Homo sapiens: one gene and its partners. The protein of the gene in region 1 purifies or fractionates together with the protein of each later gene. This does not show direct contact. Each region holds a gene or a part of one and is shown in the gene's direction. Other genes may lie near its edges.

Region 1 (8,640 bases):
AAAACACTCCATAATTCTCCATTCTCTCTTTCACCTCTTAAAAGCTGAATACTAATACCTGAAGAAAACAAAACTATTTCACCCAAAAATATACTCCTTTGACATACTTTGAGATGGCTGTTAGAGGATCTGCAAACAGAAGCAGTGCTGCAAAGCTGTCTTTTGTGGGGAGATTTGTGTCTCTAGAGAATCTGCATTGATGCAACAGGCTTTTCCTGAGGTCCTCCCTTGCAGATCTAGGAAAGATTAACTGAGAGTCTGATACCTTTAAAGGTCTGAAAGAAACATTTACCTATTCTCTCTGAGGGCTACTATCTGTGAGATTTCACCTGCATAGTGAGGACTAAGCTCTGTTTTTGTGTGTGTGTATTTGTTTGTTTTAATCTTGGCCAAATTCCTATCTAAGGGGTCTGGAGACCATAAATGCTCATCAGATGGGTTTTATTTTAACCCTGTATATGGTGACTTACTTTCCAATCTGACTCTGGCATAACAAGGAAGAAAATCAAAATGTTTTACCCCCAAATACATTTCCTTGCCATGCCTTGAAATTGCCCTGCAAAGTCTCTTGTGGGAAAAATCCACATTCTATAGAGAATCCCCTTACTCCTTTCTTTTCCTTCCTTCCTTTCCAGATCCAGGAGATAATCACCTATGAGCCAGGCACCCTTTTAAGTCCGATAAGAAACATTTTACCACCTGCTATCTCTGAAGTCTGCTATCTGAGAGCTTCTTCTGCACAGTAAAACTTGATCTCCACAATCCTTTATCTTAACCTGAACATTTTCTTTCTATTGACCCCAGGTCTTCAGATAAACTCAACTAATTGTCAAACAGAAAATGTTTAAATTTACCTATAGCCTAGACCCCTCCCCCCGCCCCTGCCCTTTGAGTTGTCCCACCTTTCTGAACCAAACCAATGTCTTTCTTAAATGTATTTGATGGATGTCTCATGCCTCACTTAAAATATATAAACCAAGCTGTACCCCCACCTCCTTGGGCACATGTTCTCAGGACCTCCTGAGGGCTGTGTCACAGGCCATGATCACTCATATATGGCTTAGAATAAATCTCCTAAAATATTTTACAGAGTTTAACTCTTTTGGTCGACAATAGCAAGACCACCTTTGCTAGCCAGGCTTCCTCTTTTCCCCTCCCATAACCTGTAGCACCACTGTAACCTGATTTACTACCATAACCTGGTTTTGGCCATGCTCCAAGACCTCATTCTTTTGTAACCTCAAGATGGTACATGAGCTTCTGTACTCCCACTGAGGAGTTGGAGGTCATCATTCTCTCCCATGCACGTTAATAAACTTGTATGCCATTTCTCCTATTAATCTACTTTTTGTCAGTTTATTTCTCAGTGAAACTTCAGAAGGCAGAAAAAAAGTTTTCCCTTGGCCCCTACATCACCAGGGTGACCTTAGAAATGACACTAAAGGCCAGGCATTGTGGCTCACGCCTGTAATCCCAGCCCTTTGGGAGGCCAAGGGGGGGTGGATCACCTGAGGTCAGGAGTTTGAGACCAGCCTGGACAACATGGTGAAACCCCGTCTCTACTAAAAATAAAAATAATTAGCTGGGTGTGGTGGCAGGCACCTGTAATCCCAGTTACTCAGGAGGCTGAGACAGGAGAATCACTTGAACTTAAGAGGTGGAGGTTGCGGTGAGCCGAGATTGCGCCACTGCACTCCAGCCTGAGTGACAAGAGTGCAACTCCACCAAAAAAAAAAAAAAAAAAAAAGGAAGAAAGAAAGAAATGACACTAAAGATGACAGAGTTTCTAAGAAAAGAGTCACACTCCAGCTTCTCTCACCTCTGAGAGATTTTGCTTGGATATAACCTCCTCTAAGAAACAACTCATTACATCTTACATCTTCAGTATGCATTAGATGCCCTTCTACAAGTCTTGTGCCAATTATGCTTTTATTAAGTAAGAGGAAATATAGAGTAGTCACTCTAAGTGCCAACTCCGGATTCACTTCTATCTGGGTTCCAATGGTTTGGCTTAGTCATATGGCCAAGCCAAACTTCAATACCTTTGTTATTTGTTGGCTCTGTGACTTGAACAACTTATTAAAACCTCTGTGAGTTTCCTTTTCTCAACTTTAAACTGTTGCTACATCAATAAATAGACTAGACAAGTGTTTAAGGACATAAACTCTGGTATCAGACTACTTGATTTTGAACCCCTAACTCTGCCAGTTACTAACTTTGCAACTTGTTCTCGCCAGTAGGCAGTGCAGTGGTTAAAGGGTCATGTTCCAGGGCCAGACTGCCAGCGTGGAAATTCTGGCCCCACCCAAAGGTGTATTCGCCATTAAGTTAATGGCATGAAGCCTCAGGGCTTCCTACTTATGGGTGCCTCCTCCAAGATCCTGTACCTGTAGTTTACATTTGTAAGTTTGGATTCTATTTCAAAAAGAGGTTCTCAGATACTGTAAATCAAAACTCAGATTCCACAAAACCTGCTTGCAAAGTTGACTCTGCCATATACTGGCTATATGGTCTGGGTTAGATATTTATCTCCTGGGTCTCTGTTTCTCCTCTTGTAAAATGGAATAAAAATGGCAACCACCTTCACAGGGTTGTAATAAAGATTGAGCTAATATATGTTAAAATGTTTAGAGCAGTGTAATGCACACAGCATATGCTTCATGTGTGTTGGTGTCTATAACTCCCTCTCTGTCCACTCCTTATCTTCTTCTCATGAGCCCTGTCAGGACTAAGATTATCTTTCTCTTTGTAAACTTAGCCTGTGGCAAGCCTCACCTATATTCTAACTCTTTCCCTATGGGACTATACACATTCTCTTCTGTAAGCTTCCTGAGTTGTTTACAATCTGATTTTATCAACCTTTATCTGATTTCTTAAACCTAGACTTGTTCATTCTTTATGGCATAATAATTATGGTTTCTTTTTCTCCCTAATCTTCTTCCTCAAGGGACCTCAAGCTTTTCTCTTAAGACTTTCAACTGATCCAATGAGTCTGACCCATATTATGGAGGTAATCTGTTTTACTCAAATTTTACTGATTTAAATGTTAATCACATTTAAAACAAACAAACAAACAACAACTTCACAGCAACTTCTAAACTGTTGTTTTTCCAAAAAGTGGGCACCATGCCTAGCTAAGCTAACAAATAAAAGTAACCATCACAGCAGTCATGGCCTGAATAAGACTTGTCCTAGGCCAGGCACAGTGGCTCACACCTGTAATCCCAGCAATTTGGGAGGCCGAGGCAGGTGGATCACTTGAGGTCAGGAATGTAAGATCAGCTTGGCCAACATGGTGAAACCCCATCTCTACCAAAAATACAAAAATTAGCCGGGTATGGTGGCACCTGCCTATAATCCCCACTACTCGGGTGGCTGAGGCATGAGAATTTCCTGAACCCGGGAGGTGGAGGCTGCAGTGAGCTGAGATCATGCCACTGCACTCCAGCCTGGATGAGTGAGATTCTGTCTCAAAAAAAAAAGATTGTCCTGTACATTGTAGGTATTGCAGTTTCCTGCTAGCTCACAGAAGAACAGCCTCATTACCTTCAATAGATGCTCTTAACCCATCGTCATCTGCCTTCCTCTGGACACTGCCTTTTGGGAGTGCTGGAGTTGCATCCTCAAGGACAGGGCTATGCCTTCAAAGAGCCAAGCAAAGAACTTTTCCTGCATTTTCCCACACAGACACTTCCTAGATTCTTCTGCCTTATGCCTGCCTTGGTCAGTGTAGCTAGGATGTGCTTCAAATGGAAATTATGCAAGTGAGAAGGACCAGGTGTAAAGACAATTTAATTGTGGGAAAAGGCTTACAAAGGAAGGTCATTGTGACCCTCACAAGCAGTGTTCTTGAGTGGATAGGACATAAACAGGGAAGAAAGCATGTGATCATGAGAACAGCTGAAGTTCTGAGTGAGCAATGACATGAATGGTGTCCAATTCAAAGAAAAGAGAAGGTAGATCCAGGAGCTGAATAAACAGACAGAGCAATTTTGAGAGATACATCCAGAAAGCAGAAGCACACACTTACACTTTAGCTCTGAATCCTGGCTAAAGCAACATACAGAGGCGGTAACTCCTAGAACTCTGATTTTCACTCTGTTGCCAGAGAGGCTCTTCCTGGGCAGCTGTGTGCCATGCAAATGATAGAAACAAATCCCATAGTATTGTAAGTCATAGGTTAAGGAGCAGATTTAATTTCATAAGGAGAAATAACACAATGCCAGTGTCAGCAAGAGCAAGTCTCCCCATCATCCCAAGGAGAGGAATTCTACAACCTGGGTATCTACTGGACATAATGTGGGCTCCATTCTCACAGAAGGAATCCTTTCCACTGTGGTTCTTCCTGTGTGGCTTACGCATGAGACAAGTGTAAGAAAGTGGCCATGTCAATAAGAAAATAAGCCAGCTCTTTGGTGCCAAGAAGTCTGATTTGGGGGTGCCAGCTATTTATAGGAATTGTCTAGAATTAAAATATCACCCTGCCTTGGGGATTGTGGGGCAGCTGGGGATCTTGGACATCTGCAGTATATTGCAACCACACCTGAAATTAAGAAGGACTCAATGACAATAAACATCTTTACATCACCCAGTGTCTTGAACTCACTTCCCCATCATGTAGAGCAGCTCAGGTCTTCTCTAGCTCTTCCACCTCATGATGGGTAGTGACTGCTAGGGAAGTCCTGATCATCCTAGCCCTCCAAGAAATGTTTTGAATAGCATTGCATCTTGAACTCACTATAATTTGATCAAGCAAAGATGTTCTATGTCTCTGGTCTGAAACCTGCCACCACAGCTGTGTTCTCTGCTTTCAGAGACCAGGGGAGCAGTGACTGAAGCTAAGACTACACATAGCACTTCAGACAGGCAAATTAGGAGGGAAAAGAAAACTGAATCTGTAAACTCGGGAAAAACTGGTGTATCTTTTGAGGTCCCAGCCATTTTGAGAAACTCTGATGCTGAAAAAATAAGGAAGAACAATCTGACTCCTCTCTCAAACGCTGACATTCTAGCTGAGTGTTGATTTTTTCTTAGAAAAACAAACTTTGGGTCAACAAGGAAAGATCACGAGTGGGGAGGGTGAATGGGTGATTCACCTCATGGATCTCCCTGGCAGCTCTTGCACTTCCTTGATCAATCTGTATATAAGAAATGTGCTGGGCACCTGGGACACCACTTCTCTGGGACACATTGCCTTCTGTTTTCTCCAGCATGCGCTTGCTCCAGCTCCTGTTCAGGGCCAGCCCTGCCACCCTGCTCCTGGTTCTCTGCCTGCAGTTGGGGGCCAACAAAGCTCAGGACAACACGTGAGCCATGCCCTTCTCCTCCCCACAAAAAAAATTGCAGGGAGGGCTCCTCTCCCAGTCTGGAAATTACATATCTCTTTCTGAGAATTTCTTTCAACTTCCCAGAACTCTAGTCCCAGGAGCTCCCATGGATCTCCTGCCAGGTTCCACTTCTTGTCCTCTTAGGAAGCCCCACCAACTCCTCTCACATTTTTGCTGGGTGTTTCTGCATTGCCAGTGGAAATAAAGCTCCAAATGTACCTACAGGCTGTAATTAGTAGTTAGTCTTCATCTAACATGCTGATCCACATCTTGTTCATAATTTATACCTTTGTTCAGATTTCTGCTCAGTAAACTTTACCTTCTCACACCTTGCCTCCTAGAAGAGAAGCATAACAGGTCTGTGAATTCCAATGGCAGCTTAGGGCAGCTTTGGCAGGACTGGCTAAAGGACCAGAGGCCCTGGCCACTGCCCTGTGGTCTGAGATTGAGCTAGACTGGCAGCTTAGACATTCTTCCTAACCTGAAGTCTGAAGATGAATATGATGACCTCTTGCTCTCACGTATACTGGGACCTGAGAGCACAGGTTCAGAAGTCAACTTATTGAGAACACATGTGTGAAGGAAGCAGAAAAATTGGAGCAAGTAAAATAAAGTAGAAAATGGAGCCAAGGGTCTGGGAGAAAGCAGCGATACCCAATCTAGGGAGTTTTCTCTATAGCAGTAGGGTTTATAATGCTGGGTTTCTGGGTTGTGATCTTGGAGGTACTCTCTATGGCATGGTCAGATATCCTGTCCTGGAGGAAACTGTTCAGGGTTTTGACAAGCTAATGTAATGGAGGCAAGTGTCCCAAGAAACCCTGCATGGGGACAGGTTCAGATCCCACCCCATTCCCGCCAGATGACAGTCCACTTAGCCCTGAAGGGCAGCAAGGTATTCAAATAAGCTATGCTAATTAGGTTATCAACCATCCATCCTGATTTGCCCAGAACTTTCCTGGTTGTAGCACTGCAACTCTGCCCTCCCCCGCCACCTCCACAACCCATTCTGGAAAAGACCTCAGTCCTGGGTAAACTGAGATGGTTAGTCACTCGAACTAAGCTGGTCATCCTATCAATCTGAAACTCATATACAAATGGGAGAGATTTTGAAGTTGCTTAGGTATTTATACCCTTTTCCTGTGCACTGGGCACTACAGCAGTTGGCACCAAAAAATAGAATCTCTCTAAGATGCTTTGCCCCAAGAAAATGGGGCTGTGAGACACTGTGGGCTAAGAATCTCAATTCCCTTCTGTCCCACACAATAACAAAGGTCCGTAGCCGGGAGTTTCTAGGGACGAGAAAATAACTCTCCTGGCCCCGAACCCAGTCCTCATTGACTGAAGAAGAACATTTGACCATTTTATTTGTCTCCATTTCCTTTCCTTTTCAGATTGCAGTGTATGGTCTAAATGTAGAGTAGTATCTAAAGTTCCCAAACATGGCCATATGTCCAAATTTCCTAAGGAGCTAAATAAATACAAATTCCTAAACCCTACCTGGGGACCACAGAAGGAGGATCTTCAAAGATGCTCCTACAAATACCTCCAGTGCATTGAGATGTTTGCTGGGTTTTTAAAATTTTTTATTATTTTATTTTATTTTTCCATAAGTTACTGGGGTACAAGTGGTATTTGGTTACATGAGTAAGTTCTTTAGTGGTGATGAGATTTTGGTGCACCCATCACCCGAGCAGTATACACTGCACCATATTTGTAGTCTTTTAGCCCTCACCCCTCTCCCACTCTTCCCCGCAAGTCCCCAAAGTCCATTGTATCATTCTTATGCTTTTGAGTCCTCAAAGCTTAGCTCCCACATATCAGTGAGAACATACGATGTTTGGTTTTCCATTACTGAGTTACTTCACTTAGAATAATAGTCTCCAATCTCATACAGGTCACTGCAAATGCTGTTAATTCATTCCTTATTATGGCTGAGTAGTAGTATTCCATCATATATATATATATATATATATATATATATATATATATATATATATATATACCACAGTTTCTTTATCCACTCGTTGATTGATGGGCATTTGGGTTGGTTCCACAGTTTTATAATTGTGAATTGTGCTGCTATAAACATGTGTGTGCAAGTATCTTTTTTGAATAATGACTTCTTTTCCTCTGGGTAGATACCCAGTAGTGGGATTGCTGGATCAAATGGTGGTTCTATTTTTAGTTCTTTAAGGAATCTCCACACTGTTTTACATAGTGGTTGTAGCAGTTTACATTCCCGTCAGCAGTATAGAAGTGTCCCCTGATCACTGCATCCACGCCAACATCTACTGTTTTATGATTTTTTGATTACGGCCATTCTTGCAGGAGTAAGGTGGTATCGCATTGTGGTTTTGATTTGCATTTCCCTGATCAAGAGGTTTGCTGGTTTAATGTGATTCTGTTGCTAGAAAATTTTCTCCTAATAATGACTTGAGCCCTCCTACTCAGTAGACAACCACCAGAGCCTGTAGGATGTTATCAGGAAGTGGCATGTGGTATTGTACATTTTTTCTTTTTAAAAACTTGTTTTTGGTCAATGGAAGGGAAGAAGATGCTCGTTCATTGATGGGCATTTGGGTTGGTTCCATGATTTTGCAATTGTGAATTGTGCTACTATAAACATGCATGTGCAAGTATCTTTTCTAAATAATGACTTCTTTTCCTCTGGGTAGATACCCAGTAGTGGGATTGCTGGATCAAATGGTAGTTCTACTTTTAGTTCTTTAAGGAATCTTAAAGTGTCCTAGTTGTTTTATTAAACAAAATTAAATCTGTGTGAAGTTACCAATCCAATCAACACATGAAAATTCCAGGGGATTCCAATGCTGAACAATTGATCCAAGCCCCATAATTTCCCTCCCTTGCCCATCCTGTGCCCCTTGCCCTGTTCATGGCTCCCCCCTCACTCAAAGATTGGTCTCTGATCCTGGTGTTCTGATTCTCTCTTCCCACAATCAGTCGGAAGATCATAATAAAGAATTTTGACATTCCCAAGTCAGTACGTCCAAATGACGAAGTCACTGCAGTGCTTGCAGTTCAAACAGAATTGAAAGAATGCATGGTGGTAAGTAGAGGACTGGGGGCGTGACTTCAAAAGATAATTCAACTCCTTGATTATAAACATAATTTAATCTCTCACTTTAATAATGTACAGTGTACTTAATGAAACATTCTCACTTATGTTATGCTACTTGAGACTCAGAACAACTGTGGGAGCTTGGGACAGATGACTTCTCATTTTCCAGATGAAGAAGTTCGAATCCAGAGAAGTCTAGGATAAATAAGAAGGAAAGGAAGAAGGAATAGGAAG
Region 2 (7,575 bases), on another chromosome or scaffold:
CCTTCGGGTCCTCTCTGATGAATTTTTCCTATAACTCTTCGAGAACCTCTGCAGTTCCACATCCTCTCTCCAGCTTATGTTGCCATTTCAAACTAAAGATCAAATAGTGGTTTAATTTTCTTGTAAATTTGAATTGCTCTAGGAAAGTAACCAAAGTCAGGGGCTCTGGATGTGGCTGCCTTTCTTTAAGGCAGCTTCAGAATCAGGGATGTCTTTCCTTACTTTGGATATGCTTTTTTTTTTGGATATGCTTTCTTTTAGTTTAATTAGTTGTGGTTTATACTTCATGTGCCATATTTCTTTCTTGTCTGCTTTTTAAATGGCCACTCTTGATCTGTAAGGGTCTCTGATTTCTGAATTAGCCTTAGAATTAGGTGTTACATGAATACCTGTTCTTTTCTTTTTATTTTTATTATTATTTTTTGAGACGGAGTCTCGCTCTGTTGCCCGGGCTGGAGTGCTGTGGTGCAATCTTGGCTCACTGCAACCTCTGCCTCCTGGGTTCACGCCATTCTCCTGCCTCAGCCTCCGGAGTAGCTGGGACTGCAGGCTCCCGCCACCATGCCTGTCTCATTTTTTGTATTTTTTAGTAGAAACGGGGTTTTACTCTGTTAGCCAGGATGGTCTCAATCTCCTGACCTCGGGATCCTCCCACCTTGGCCTCCCAAAGTGCTGGGATTACAGGCGTGAGCCACCGCGCCTGGCCTATTACCTGTTCTTTTCTGTTATTCTGTTGTACTGCATTTTGTTCCAGATGTTTTAAGTCCTCTTCAGACTTCACTTAAATGCTTCCTTTGTATTTTTTCCTAGTTATTACATTAGATTGTGATTTCTGTTATTAAATTGATGTGGCTGCATGAAGAAATGGTAGATTAATTTCTTCCTTTGCTGAAAGAGGGAAGGAGTGCTCCTTTGGTCTCACTCTTCAGGCCAGGGCAAAACTGTAGGTAGAAATGGTGGCTGTGTCAGAAGGCTAATATTTTTCTCTTTTTCTCTTTTCTCTTTTTTTTTTTTTTTTGAGATGGAGTTTCACTCTTGTCGCCCAGGCTGGAGTGCAGTAGCACGATTTCGGCTCACTGCAACCTCCACCTTCCGGGTTCAAGCAATTCTCCTGCCTCAGCCTCTGGAGTAGCTGGAATTACAGGTGCCCGCCACCACGCTGGGCTAATTTTTTTTTTTTTTTTTTTTGAGACGTAGTCTCGCTCTGCTGCCCAGGCTGGAGTGCAGTGGCACGATCTCGGCTCACTGCAAGCTCCACCTTCTGGGTTCACGCCATTCTCCTGCCTCAGCCTCCCGAGTAGCTGGGACTGCAGGTGCCTGCCACCATGCCCGGCTAATTTTTTGTAGTTTTAGTAGAGACGGGGTTTCACCGTGTTAGCCAGCATGGTCTTGATCTCCTGACCTCGTGATCCGCCCGCCTCGGCCTCCCACAGTGCTGGGATTACAGGCGTGAGCCACTGTGCCCGGCTGATGTCTGGCTAATTTTTTGTATTTGTAGTAGAGACGGAGTTTCACTATGTTGGTCAGGCTGGTCTTGAACTCCTGACCTCGTGGTCTGCCTACCTTGGCCTCCCAAAGTGCTGAGATTACAGGCGTGAGCCACTGCGCCCGCCCATGTTTTTCTTTGTTTTAAAATTTGTGAAATATTTATCCATCCATGTAAATTTAGGCGATCTCTGTACAATTTAATGACAAATTATAAAGTAAATGCTGGCGAAAGTACTACTTTTTCAAGAAATAAAACGATGCCAGTATCTCTGAACCCTTCGTGGGTCCCTTCCTGATCACAGCTTCTCAAGCCGTACAGACAGCTGTTATTCTGTGATAACATTCTTCTTCTTTTTACATTTACCATCTCCGTAGCCCTTAACCTAGTTTAGATTTGTTTCCTTATGAGTTTTGTATAAATGGAGTCATGCTGTATTATGTTGTCTTAGCATAATGTTTCTGAAATTTGTTCACATTGTGTGCAGCTGTTCATTTCCATTTTTTATGTAGTATTCTGTTGTATGAATACACCATAAGGTATTTATCTATTCCACTATTGATAGATATCTGGGTTGCTTCCAGCTTTTGGCTCTTAACAATGCTGCTGTGAACATTCTTGTATTAAGTACCCTTGTTTAAAAAAAAGTTCCTTCATATATACTGATGGGTAAAATTGCTCAGGTTCGTGGAATGGATATTTTCAGCTTCACTAGATAATGCAAGTGGTTGTGCCAGTTTACAATCCGTCAATATTTGGGAAAAATACAAATTTTAGTTTCCTGATTGAAAATAGAACCATGGCCGGGTGCAGTGGCTCATGCCTGTAATCCCATTACTTTAGGAGGCCAATGCGGGCGGATCACCTAAGGTCAGGAGTTCCAGACCAGCCTGGCCAACATGGTGAAATCCCGTCTCTACTAAAAATACAAAAATTAGCAGGGCATGGTGATGGGCGCCTGTAATCCCAACTACTCGGGAAGATGAGGCAGGAGAATCGCTTGAACCTGTAGGCGGAGGTTGCAGTGAACTGAGAGGGCACCATTGCACTCCAAGCTGGGGGACAGAGCGAGACTCCATTTAAAAAAAAAAAAAGAAAAGAAAAAAAGAAAATAGAACCGTGATGAAAATGCCCCTAAACCAGGGACTCCTCTGGCATGGGGCATATAAATGGCCTAATGGGATAACTTCTATCACAAACCCTGCAGTTGGCTAGTATCCTTAAAAATCGAAATATGGGTGGAACACAGTGCCTCATGCCTGTAATCCCAGCAGTTTGGGAGGCCAAGGTGGGAGGATTGCTTGAGCCCCGGAGTTGGAGACCAGCCTGGGCAAGATGGCAAGACCCCATTTCTACAGAAAAATAAAAATAGCTGGATGTGGTAGCATGGACCTGTAGTCCCAGCTACTCGGGAGGCAGAGGCAGGAGGATTGTTTGAGCCCAGGAGTGTGAGGCTGCAGGGATCTATGAATGCACCACTGCATTTTATCCTGGGTAGTGGAGCAAGACCTTGTCTCATTAAAAAAAAAAAAAAAAAAAAAACAGACAAAAGCCTGGTGCAGTGGCTCAGGCATGTAATCCCAGCACTTTGGGAGGTCGAGGGGGGCCGTGGAAATGAACTCCTCACCTGAGGTCAGGAGTTCGAGAACAGCCTGGCCAATATGGTGAAACCCCGATTCTACTAAAAATACAAAAAAATTAGCTGGGCTGGGTGGCGTGCGCCTGTAGTTCAAGCTACTAGGGAGGCTTGAGGCAGGAGAACCACTTGAACCTGGGAAACGGAGGTTGCATTGAGCCGAGATGATGCCATTGCACTCCATCCTGGGTGAGAAAACGAGACTTCGTCTCAAAAAAATAAAAATACAAAGAAACAAAACCCAGGCAAAAGAATAGAAATACGTCAATTCTGGTCGGGCACGGTGGCTCACGCCTGTAATCCCACCACTTTGGGAGGCCGAGGCGGGCAGATCATGAGGTCAGGAGATCGAGAGCATCCTGGCTAGCACGGTGAAACTTTCTCTCTACTAAAAAATACAAAAAAATTAGCTGGATGTGGTGGCGGGCGCCTGTGGTCCCAGCTACTTGGGAGGCTGAGGCAGGAGACTGGCGTGAACCCGGGAGACAGAGCTTGCAGTGAGCCGAGATTGTGCCACTGCATTCCAGCCTGGGTGACAGAGTGAGACTCTGTCTCAAAAAAAAAAAAATAAATGAAATAAAATGAATATATTCACATGGAAAAAAAATCAATTTCCATTTTAAGGAGTCATGTCTGTCTTATAAACATATGGAGTTATTTCAAAGAAGCATAGAAGACATTGTTCTTTTTTTTTTTTTTTTTTTTTGAGATGAACCTCCGCCTCCTGAGTTCAAGCAATTCTTCTGCCTCAGCCTCCCGAGTAGCTGGGACTACAGGCGCATGGTACCCCGCCTGGCTAATTTTTGTATTTTTAGTAGAGATGGGGTTTCACCATGTTGGCCAGGCTGGTCTTGAACTCCTGACCTCGTGATATGCCCGACTCGGCCTTCCAGCGTGCTAGGATTACAGGCATGAGCCACTGCACCTGGCCTATTTTTTTATTTTTATTTTTTTTAAATTTATTTTTCTTATTATTTTTTGAGATGGAGTCTTGCTCTGTTGCCCAGGCTGGAGTGCAGTGGTGCGATCGTGGCTCACTGCAACCTTCGCCTCCCGGGTTCAAGTAATTCTCCTGCCTCAGCTTCCCTAGTAGCTGGGACTACAGGCACCACACCTGGCTAATTTTTGTATTTTTAGTAGAGACAGGGTTTCACCATATTAGCTAGGCTGGTCTCAAACTCCTTGTGATCTGCCTGCCTCAGCCTCCCAAACTGCTGGGATTATAGGCGTGAGCCACTGTGCCTGGCCTATTTTATTTTATTTTTTTGAGACAGAGTTTTGCTCTTGTTGCCCGGGCTGGAGTGCAGTGGCGCGATCTCGGCTCACTGCAACCTCCGGCTGCTGGGTGCAAGTGATTCTCCTGCCTCAGCCTCCCGAGTAGCTGAGGTTACAGGTGCCCACCACCACGCCTGGCTAATTTTTGTGTTTTTGGTAGAGATGGGATTTCACCACGTTGGCCAGACTGGTCTTGAACTCCCAACCTCAGGTGATCCGCCCACCTCAGCCTCCCAAAGTGCTGGGGATTACAGGCGTGAGCCACTGCACCGGGCCCCATATGAATGTATTCAAACTGGACTAAGCTATGAAGAGCCATTGTTGGAGTAGATGTGAACCTTGAGGGGCCTCAAAGCCCAAGGAAGAGGTAAGGTTCTGAGGCAGTTCAGACTTCTTTTAGTCCATCACGGATTGAAGACTCACTCTGCAGAGCCATACAGGGGGCCCAAAAGAGGTATCAGGGATAAGAAACCCAAGAAACAGTGATTGCAATAAGATCTTCCCTTGGTACCTAAACGGAAAAAAGAAAAAAATTAGCAAACAGACCTATAGAAATGTAATAGATTGTTGTTTTGGAGTAACCTTTGTCCATGGTACCATCTTATGTTCTAATAATAAAATAATAAAAATAATAACTCATGTAGTGAAGAATTGCTGTGCATCAGGCACTATGCTAAGCTCCAGTAGGAGGAAATACAGAGGAGCCAGGCGCAGTGGCTCACACCTGTAATCCCAGTTTTGGGAGGCTGAGGATCACGAGGTCAGGAGATCGAGACCATCCTGGCTAACACGGCGAAACCCCGTCTCTACTAAAAATACAAAAAAATTAGCCGGGCGTGGTGGTGGGTGCCTGTAGTCCCAGCTACTTGGGAGGCTGAGGCAGGAGAATGGTGTGAATCCAGGAGGTGGAGCTTACAGTGAGCCGAGATCGCACCATTGCACTCCAGCCTGGGCGACAGAGTGAGACTCCATCTCAAAAAAAAAAAAAGAAAAAGAAAAAGAGGGAGATACAGAGGAGATACCAGTGAACAATTTGATTTTATACCAGCAAAAATGTCCAGGGTCTGTTTAAGGGAGGGCTGGCTTTCCTTTATTGTTACTTATTTTTTTTTTTTTACAATGCAGCTATATTTAAAAGCGTTTAGAAGTAAATGCTTGTTTACAGACCTCATACACCCCAAGAGCATTAGAGTATTTTCTTTTTTCATTATTAGTCTCATCAGAGTCCCAGAAATTGGGAACACTCAGATATCCTCATGGCTGCATGTTTTTCAGAAATACTTTAATTAATTTCTTTATTGCTTCTTACTAAGTCTTTTACTTGGAGCTAATTAAGAATCTTTTGTCTCTTTTAGAAGTTTCTCCATTTCTCTTTATTACGAAGGCTCAACTTTTGTGTCTTATGTGCAGCATCTTGAAGTTAAGTCTTCATTATTTTGTACAAGTTTTTGGTATTTTATGGTTTAGTTTCTTTTTCTTTTTTTTTTTTTTGAGATGGAGTTTTGCCCTTGTTGCCCAGGCCGGAGTGCAGTGGCATGGTCTTGGCTCACTGCAACCTCCACCTCCCAGGTTCAAGCGATTCTCCTGTCTCAGCCTTCCGAGTAGCTGGGATTACAGGCACGTGTCACCACACCTGGCTAATTTTTTTTGTATTTTTAGTAGAGGCGGGGTTTCATCATGTTGGTCAGGCTGGTCTCAAACTACTGACCTCAGGTGATCCACCCACCTCGGCCTCCCAAAGTGCTGGGATTACAGGTATGAGCCACCTCGTTCGGCAGGTTTAGTTTCTTTCAGATTTTGAAAGAAAATCGTACTATGATCAACCAGAATTACGTGTCTGTTACCATTACTACACTATAACCACTTGTATTTTTAGTAGAGATGGGGTTTCACCGTGATAGCCAGGATGGTCTCGATCTCCTGACCTGGTGATCCGCCTGCCTCGGCCTCCCAAAATGCTGGGATTACAGGCATGAGCCACCTCTTTCGGCCGGTTTAGTTTCTTTCAGATTTTGAAAGAAAATCATACTATGATCAGCCAGAATTATGTGTCTTACCATTACTACACTATAGCCACTGTGTAGAAAAAGATGATTTTTTTTTTTTTGAGACGGAGTCTTGCTCTGTCGCCCAGGCTGGAGTGCAGTGGCACGATCTTGGCTCACTGCAAGCTCCACCTCCCAGATTCACACCATTCTCCTGCCTCAGCCTCCCGAGTAGCTGGGACTACAGGCGCCCAACACCACACCCGGCTAATTTTTTTGTATTTTTAGTAGAGACGGGGTTTCACCGTGATAGCCAGGATGGTCTCGATCTCCTGATCTGGTGATCTGCCTGCCTCGGAAAGTGCTGGGATTACAGGCGTGAGCCTTAGATTAATACCACTTGTGGAAAATTCAGAAGAGTGTTTAACAGAAGAAACTTAATTACTCTGTGGTTCCATCATCTAGGCATAACTACTGTTAGCATTCCTTTTTATCATTTTTTGAGGTGGAGTCTCACTCTTTCCCCAGGCTGAAGTGCAGTGGCGCAGTCTCAGCTCACTACAACCTCCGCCTCCCGGATTCAAGCAATTCTCCTGCCTCAGCCTCTAGAGTAGCTGGGATTACGGGTGGCTGCCACCATGCCCTGTTAGTTTTTGTATTTTTAGTGGAGATGGGGTTTCACCATGTTGGCCAGGCTGGTCTCACAATCTTGGCTGGATGTGATGGCTCACGCCTGTAATCCTAGCACTTTGGGAGACCGATGCTGTGGATCGCTTGAGGTCAGGAGTTTGAGTACATCCTGACCAACATGGCGAAATCCCGTCTCTACTAAAATACAAAAATTAGCTGGGCATGGTGGCGGGTGCCCGTAATCCCAGCCACTTTGGAGGCTGAGGCAGGAGAATTGCTTGAACCTAGGAGGCGGAGGTTTCAGTGAGCCAGGATCGTGCCACTACGCTCCAGCCTGGGCGACAGAGCAACACTGTGTCTCAATAAAAATAAAAATAAAAAAGAATTTAGGCTGGGTGTGGTTGCTCATGCCTGTAATCCCAGCACTTTGGAAGGTGGAAGCGAGTGGATTACCTGAGGTTAAGAGTTCGAGACCAGCCTGGCCAACATGGCAAAACCTCATCTCTACTAAAAATATAAAAATTAGCCGGATGTGGGCCGGGTGCGGTGGCTCATACCTGTAA
Region 3 (7,575 bases), on another chromosome or scaffold:
TTTATCCGTCTGCCTGAGCATCTCCTGAGTCCATCTTTTCCTCCTCTCCTTCTCCATGGTCATGTCCTAGTCCAGCCCCATCTTCTCCTGCCTCTGTCTCCCTGGGCATCCTGGCCCTGGTCTCCCTGCAGCACAAGAGCTGGAGGGATCCCTTTCCCCCAGCTATGGAGAAGGTTTCTCTTTTTCTTTCTTGCATTCCTTTTTCTTTGTCAAATTAAATATAATTGTATGAATAGGCCAGGCATGGTGGCTCATGCCTGTAATCCCAGCACTTTGGGAGGCCAAGGCAGGAGGATTGCTTGAGGCCAGGAGTAGTTCAGGACTAAGCTGGCCAACATAGGGAGCTTCTGTTTCTAGAAGAAAAAAAAATTGTTTGAATAGCTAGTCACACAGTTCAAAAGTCAAAATAATATTATAAAAGGGTAAATGTGGAGAAATTTCTCTCCCAACTCTGCTGCTGTCCTTCCCATTCTGTCCCTCTATCCCTCTACCTGCTCATGGGGAACCACTTTGTCAGTTTCTTGTATTTCTTCCTGTTAGTGCCAGTAAATGGAGTTGTAGATCCGAAATGTTCCTCAGTACGCATACTGATTGGTACTTTGCTATTTTCACTTAATAGTAACACCCTGCAGAGTTTTCCACATCATTCCATAGAAAGCTTCCTCTTTCTGTTTTTTTTTCCCCCACAGCTATGTAACACTGTTTTTGTGACTGTGCCTGGTCCCCTATAGACAGACACCTGGGTTGTTTCCATTTTTTGCCATTAGCAGGCCTCAAAGAATCACTTTGTATATAAGACATTTTGCAAGTATGCAGATTGAGCTGTAGATTTCCAGAAGCAGGACTCCTGGGTCAAAGCTTAAAGGCATGGGAAATTTGCGAGAGATGACCAAACTTCCACTCTCGGTGTTATGCCACTGCACATCCCACCAGCAATGTATGAGAATGCCTGTTGCAGATCCGACCATGCCATTCTCCTGTTCGAAACCCTTCTGTGGCTCCCTAGTACCTTGAAGTGAAGTTCCATAGCCTGTAGGGCCCTCTAGGATCTAGCCTCTTCTCTCTCATTCTTCTCTTTTCTTTTTTTTTTGAGAAAGAGTCTCGCTCTGTCACCCAGGCTAGAGTGCCATGGCACAGTCTCAACTAATTGCAACCTCCACCTCTTGGGTTCAAGCGATTCTCCCACCTCAGCTTCCTGACTTGACGTGATTACTGGCACGCACTACCATGCCTGGCTAATTGTTGTTTTTTTTTTTTTTTTTGAGACAGAGTCTCGCTCTGTTGCCCAGGCTAGAGTGCAGTAGTACAGTCTTAGCTCACTGCAAACCTCTGCCTCCCGGGTTCAAGCGATTCTTCTGCCTCAGCCTCCCAAGTAGCTGGGATTACAGGTGTGCACCACCGCTCCTGGCTAATTTTTGTATTTTTAGTAGAGACAGGGTTTCACCATATTGACCAGGCTGGTCCTGAACTCCTGACCTTGTGATCCACCCGCCTTGGCCTCACAAAGTGCTGGGATGATTACAGGCGTGAGCCACTGTGCCCGGCCTAATGTTTGTATTTTTAAGAGAGGCGGGGTTTCACTATGTTGACCAGGCTGATCTTGAACTCCTGGCCTCAAGTGATCTGCCTGACTTAGCCTCCCAAAGTGCAGGGATTATAGGCGTGAGCCACCACGCCCAACCTCTCATTCCTCTCATTCTTTCTGTGTACCTTCAGGCACAGTGAAGCACTTGCATTTACTTGAAATAGGCTTGCTTTTTCCTGCCACAAGGCCTCTGCACCCCTCTGCCAGGAATGCTCTTCTATTTTTTTTTTTTTTGAGACAGGGTCTCACTCTGTCATCCCCCAGGCTGGAGTACAGTGGCGCGATCACAGCTCACTGCAGCCTCAATCTCCTAAACTCAAGTGATCCCCCCACCTCAGTCTTTTGAGTAGCTGGGACACAGGTGCGTGCCACCACACCCTGGTCTCTTCCGTCTGTGCCCCCTGGTCTGGTTGATTCTCAGTCATTTTTCTGTCTCCTTTCAAATTTTGCTTCCTCAGGGAAGCCCTCCCTGATTTCTGTTCTACTGATCAGGGTCCCCTCTTCACCTCCTCATAGCTCCTTATACTCTTTCATTATTCTTATCTTCCTTTCTGATCATCTTAATCAGTGTCTGCCCCCTCATCTGACTGTGTCTGTCGTGTTACTCCCTATTGCCAAGTGCCCACATAGCACCTGGCACAGTGTGGCAGATGACTTAGGTGGGTTCTCTGAGCCCTACTGAAACATAACAGATAACATTAGTCTCATTAGTCTCAAATAACTATATGCCAGGCACTGTGCTGTGCATCCTACACACCTGGTTTCCTCTAATCCTTACACCAGCCTTAGCAAGTAGACACCAACACAATTCCCGTTTTCCAGATGAGGAAACTGAGGCTGAGGCAGCTGAAATGACTTAAGACTGCCCAGCTAGAAAAGAGCAGAGATGGCCAGGTGCAGTGGCTCACGCCAGTAATCCTAGCACTTTGGGAGGCCAAGGCGGGCGGAGCATGAGGTCAGGAGATCGAGACCATCCTGGCTAACATGGTGAAACCCCGTTGCTACTAAAAATACAAAAAATTAGCCAGGCGTGGTGGCGGGAGCCTGTAGTCCCAGCTATCAGGAGGCTGAGGCAGGAGAATGGCATGAACCCAGGGGGCGGAGCTTGCAGTGAGCCCAGGTTGCACCACTGCACTCCAGCCTGGGTGACAGAGTGAGACTCTGTCAAAAAAAAAAAGAAAAGAGCAGAGTCACGATTCACAGCCAGCTCCACCCTGCTCCAAAGCCCACTTTCCTAGATGGGTTCAACCAGGAGGTTCAAGGTTGGAAGGGTGTGGAAGGACTGGGGCTCAGGCATGTGACCTGGGGCTGGGTTGAGCTGGGCTGGGCAGGTAAGCTGGCTTCCTCCTCTGGCAGCAAGTGTGCAGGCAGGTGGGTGGCCCTGGGAAGTTGTTTTTTTTGAGACAGAGTCTTGTTCTGTCACCCAGGCTCGAATGTAGTGGTGCAATCAATGCTCACTGCAACCTCTGCCTCCCGGGTTTAAGCGATTTTCCTGCCTCAGCCTCCCGAGTAGCTGGGATTACAGGCGCCCGCCACCACACTTGGCTAATTTTTTGTATTTTTAGTAGAAACGGGGTTTCACCGTGTTGGCCAGGCTGGTTGTGAACTCCTGACCTCAAGTGATCCTCCCGCCTCGGCCTCCCAAAGCACTGGGATTATAGGCATGATCCCACACCTGGGACCACAGGTGCATACTACCACACCAGAATTTTTTTTTTTTTTAAATAGAGATGGGGTCTTGCTGTGTTGCCCAGGCTGGTCTTGGCCACCGCGCCCGGCCTCCTGGGAGGTATTTGAGGTTGCTGGGTATTGGGTGCGGGAAGGAAAAGCCCATGACCCTGCCCCTCCACACCCTGCCCTACAGAAGGCAGATGGGACCTGTAACACCAACTTCAAGAAGACGCAGGCACTGGAGCAGGTGACAAAAGTGCTGGAGGACTTCGTGGATGGAGACCACGTCATCCTGGTGAGTGGGACACCCATGTCCCAGAATGTAGCAGCTTAAGACAGCCACCATTTATTCTTGCTCCAGAGTCAGTGGTCTTCTGCTTTGGGTGGGGCTGGACTGATACTGGCTGGCTTTGCTCAGTCTGAGGTCAGCTGGTGGCTTGGCAAGGCTGGCTGGTCCAGGGGGCCCTGCTCCCAGCTCTGCCGGTTGGCTCATGACTTGGCCGCACGTCTCTCGATAGCAGGATGGCCTGGGCTTGCTCTCACAGTGGAGGCAGGGGGCCAAGAGAACAAGTAAAAATGCAAGGCCTCTTGATGCCTGGGCTCAGAATGGCCACCATCATTTCTGCCGTTCGGCAAGTCATGTGACCCAGCCTGGATCGAGGGGTCTGGAGACAGACTCCGCCTCCGGATGGGAGTGGAAATTCATGGAATCCACCACTCTTCTCCATGCCACCTTGATGAATCCAAGCCCTCACTCCTCTGCCCTGTCTTCCCCATGGCTCCCCTATTCCATCCTGGCTAGAGCCTGCCTGCTCCTTTGGGGGAATGGGGTGAGGTCAGAGCTCAAGGTGGGCAAGGCCCCACAAAGTCCCCATGCTAACCAAAGAACGCTCCCTGTCACACAGCAAAAGTACGTGGCATGCCTAGAAGAACTTCGTGAAGCTCTGGAGATCTCCCCCTTCTTCAAGACCCACGAGGTGCGAGCCCTGGCTTCCATGGGTGGATGTATGGGTGTCGGGGTCCAGGTGCATGGAGGGGAAACCATTGATGAGTTACAGGTCAAAGATATAAAAAGGGGCTGGGCGTTGTGGCCCGCACCTGTAATACCAGCACTTTGGGAGGCTGAGGTGGGAGGATTGCTGGAGCCCAGGAGTGCCAAGACCAGCCTGGGAAGCACAGCAAGACCCCGTCTCTATTTGGAAAAAAAAAAAAAAAAAAAGGCCGGGTGCAGTGGCTCATGCCTGTAATCCCAGCACTTTGGGAGGCTGAGGCGGGCGGATCACTTGAGGTCGGGAGTTTGAGGCCAGCCTGGCCAACATGGCGAAACCCCGTCTCTATTAAAAATACAAAAATTGGCTGGGTGCGGTGGCTCATGCCTGTAATCCCAGCACTTTGGGAGGCCGAGGTGAGCAGATCACGAGGTCAGGAGATCGAGACCATCCTGGCTAACACAGTGAAACCCCGTCTCTACTAAAAAATACAAAAAATTAGCCGGGCGTGGTGGCGGGCGCCTGTAGTCCCAGCTACTTGGGAGGCTGAGGCAGGAGAATGGCATGAACCCGGGAGGTGGAGCTTGCAGTGAGCCGAGATTGTGCCGCTGCACTCCAGCCTGGGCAACAGAGTGAGACTCTGTCTCAACAACAACAACAACAACAACAAAATTAGCCAGAAATTGCTTGAACCCAGTAGGCAGAGGTTGCAGTGAGCTGAGATTGTGTCACTGCACTCCAGCCTGGGCAACAGAGTGAGACTCTGTCTCAAAAAAAAAGCAAAGCTAGGCATGGTGGTGCACACCTGTAGTCTCAGCTACTCAGGAGGCTGAGGCAGGAAGAGGGCTTGAGTCCAGGAGGTCAAGGCTGCAGTGCATTTTGATTATGCCTCACACTGAACATTTGCTGTGTATTTGCTATGTACCAAGCACTGTCTTAAGCACTTAATGTAGATTAATTCCTACATATAATATGCCCAGCAGCCTCTGAGGTAAATGATCCTACAGTCGACCCCTTATCCTCAGGTGATCTCCTCCAAACCCCCAGTGGATGCCGGAAACTGTGGATAGTACTGAACTATAGACTGTGTTTTCTCGATCTGATAACCAAGATGGCTCCTAGGTGACTAGTGGGTGGGTTGCGGATACAGCATAGACTTGCTGAACAAAGGGATGATTCGCATCCCAGGTGGGACGAAGCGGGATGGCACGAGATTTCATCACAGTAGTTAAACCAATGTGCAACTTAAAACTTACACATTGTTTGTTTCTGGAATTTTCCACTTAATATTTTTGGATCGCACTTGACTGAGAGTAACTAAAACCAAAGAAAATGAAACCACGGACTGGGGAGACTAACTGTATTACTCTCACTTTGTATATGAGGACGCAGAACCACAGAGAGGTTAAGACACCTGCCTAAGGCTGCACAGACAGGAGGTGGCACAGCCAGGATATGAATCAGGCAGCCAGGCTCCAGGGTTCATGCTGTCAATCACCCTGCTCTGCTGCCTGTCAGGAAGGGACCTTGGCCAGTGCCTGCTCCTCCCTTAACCTCCCGTCTCTACCCCGGCAGGTGGTAGGCAGCTCCCTCCTCTTCGTGCACGACCACACCGGCCTGGCCAAGGTCTGGATGATAGACTTCGGCAAGACGGTGGCCTTGCCCGACCACCAGACGCTCAGCCACAGGCTGCCCTGGGCTGAGGGCAACCGTGAGGACGGCTACCTCTGGGGCCTGGACAACATGATCTGCCTCCTGCAGGGGCTGGCACAGAGCTGAGCTGCTCAGCCACCATCAGGTTAATTGGATGGCGCCAGTCTGGCTGGAGGAGCCCTGAGATGCCATGGGAGGCCTGAGGTTGGCCACGGGGGAGCTGGCCTCCAGGGACGGGAGAGATTGTGTCATGTGCCACACGAGACCAACGTGGAAAAGTCTGAAGGGCCTTGGGAGACCAGGTAGCACCTGGCCCCATCATGATGCAGGGGTTTTGGGGACCTGGAAGGAAGGTGATGAGGCAGTGAGTCAGAAAAACCAGAACGGGGTCCCCGGATCTGCCGGGAAGGCTTCTGAGGGGCTGCCCTGAGAGCATTCAGTTCACATGTCACAGGGTATGGTGTGACAGGGTGCCTGTGGACACATGAATCACTTCTAACCTGCCTCCCTGTCAGCCTCCAGGCTGCCAGCTGGCTGAGGCCAGGGACTGGGTCAGGCTCATCTGTGGCGCCTCAGAGGGTCAGCATCATTGGTGAACAGATGCAGGCGCTGCTGGACCATCTGGGGAGAGTGACAGTCCATGTCTTCACCAGGGAGCCATTTGAGTGCTGAGCGACAAGAGGCTCAGAGGGCATGACCCCATGGGACTGGATGCGGCCTGAGGGCTGATACCGCTGGGCGGTATCCTGCCCTGCTGTGGCCCTGTGGGATCCTCCGTGTTCCTCGGCGGACTCTGCTGACCTCCTGCAGACCCAAACCACAGCCACATCCCAGCTTCTGTGCCAGCACTGTGACAGTACCTCGCTCCTCTGTGCACCAGATCCGGCCTCAGGACTTACACCTCCTGCCTGACCCCCAGGCTTCTCTCTCCTTTCTCCCAGCAAACTGCAGTGGCAGAAAGGAGGTTCAGAGGCTGGGAAAGTGGGCCTCCCCTTGCAACTCAGAGCTGCTGCACTCAGGAGGGCCCCATCCAATCCCGGGCCCCTGCAGGGAAAAGCGCTGGGTGTGTGTCAGAGGCGCAGGGTGGGTGGGGCTGCCAGCCAGGACCCTGGCCTGCAGCCTGATCCAAACCAAAGACTGTAGAACCCTGGGGTGTGGCTAACGGCCCCTCCAGCACCCATAGCCAGGTCTTCCTGGCCCTTGAGGCTGGGCTGGCGGACAGGCACCTACCTCTTCCTTAAGCTGAAGCTCCCACACTGTCTTCCAGGGCTGAGGAGATGCTCTCCTTTTCTACTGACCATCTTGATACTTATTTATACGAGAGGCAGTTGCTGGACGGGGTAGTACTGGGAAGCAGGAGGCAGAATGGCTCTGCTGAGCCTCCTACCCATGACAACACCCCAATAAACAGAACATTCAGAGCCAATGTCGTAGAGCTTTTTATTTTGCATCTGGAGTGTATTTGGACACGTGGGCTGGGTGGGGTAACAGGATAATGAGCAGTTTGGGAAAGAGGCAGGCTCCAAGCAGGCTGGTTCACTCACTTGGCAGTCACTGGGCGGCTATTCTTGTGCCTGGATGTGTTACAATGCAGGGGACACAGTGGTGAGCAAGGCTGCTCCAAGCCCTGGCTGGGATGGGGGATGCACAGACAGGCTGATCAGGGCTGGGATGGTG

Evidence for each region. Proteins that work in one complex are often made in the same cells at the same time.
Region 2: the proteins of PIP (region 1) and QRICH1 purify together in Homo sapiens (co-immunoprecipitation; 2 studies listed by BioGRID and IntAct, with this or other methods). This does not show direct contact.
Region 3: the proteins of PIP (region 1) and ITPKC purify together in Homo sapiens (co-immunoprecipitation; 2 studies listed by BioGRID and IntAct, with this or other methods). This does not show direct contact.

The regions. Positions count from the first base shown.
Region 1 is NC_000007.14:143,126,906-143,135,545, forward strand, and holds the start of PIP (prolactin-inducible protein precursor), read left to right. Parts: upstream 1-5,171; 5' UTR 5,172-5,211; coding exon 5,212-5,306; intron 5,307-8,288; coding exon 8,289-8,394; intron 8,395-8,640.
Region 2 is NC_000003.12:49,084,072-49,091,646, reverse strand, and holds part of QRICH1 (transcriptional regulator QRICH1), read left to right. Parts: intron 1-7,575. UniProt on the Homo sapiens protein: Transcriptional regulator that acts as a mediator of the integrated stress response (ISR) through transcriptional control of protein homeostasis under conditions of ER stress.
Region 3 is NC_000019.10:40,733,537-40,741,111, forward strand, and holds the end of ITPKC (inositol-trisphosphate 3-kinase C), read left to right. Parts: intron 1-3,449; coding exon 3,450-3,551; intron 3,552-4,161; coding exon 4,162-4,233; intron 4,234-5,270; coding exon of another isoform or gene 5,271-5,315; exon of another isoform or gene 5,316-5,820; coding exon 5,821-6,024; 3' UTR 6,025-7,324; downstream 7,325-7,575. UniProt on the Homo sapiens protein: Catalyzes the phosphorylation of 1D-myo-inositol 1,4,5-trisphosphate (InsP3) into 1D-myo-inositol 1,3,4,5-tetrakisphosphate and participates to the regulation of calcium homeostasis.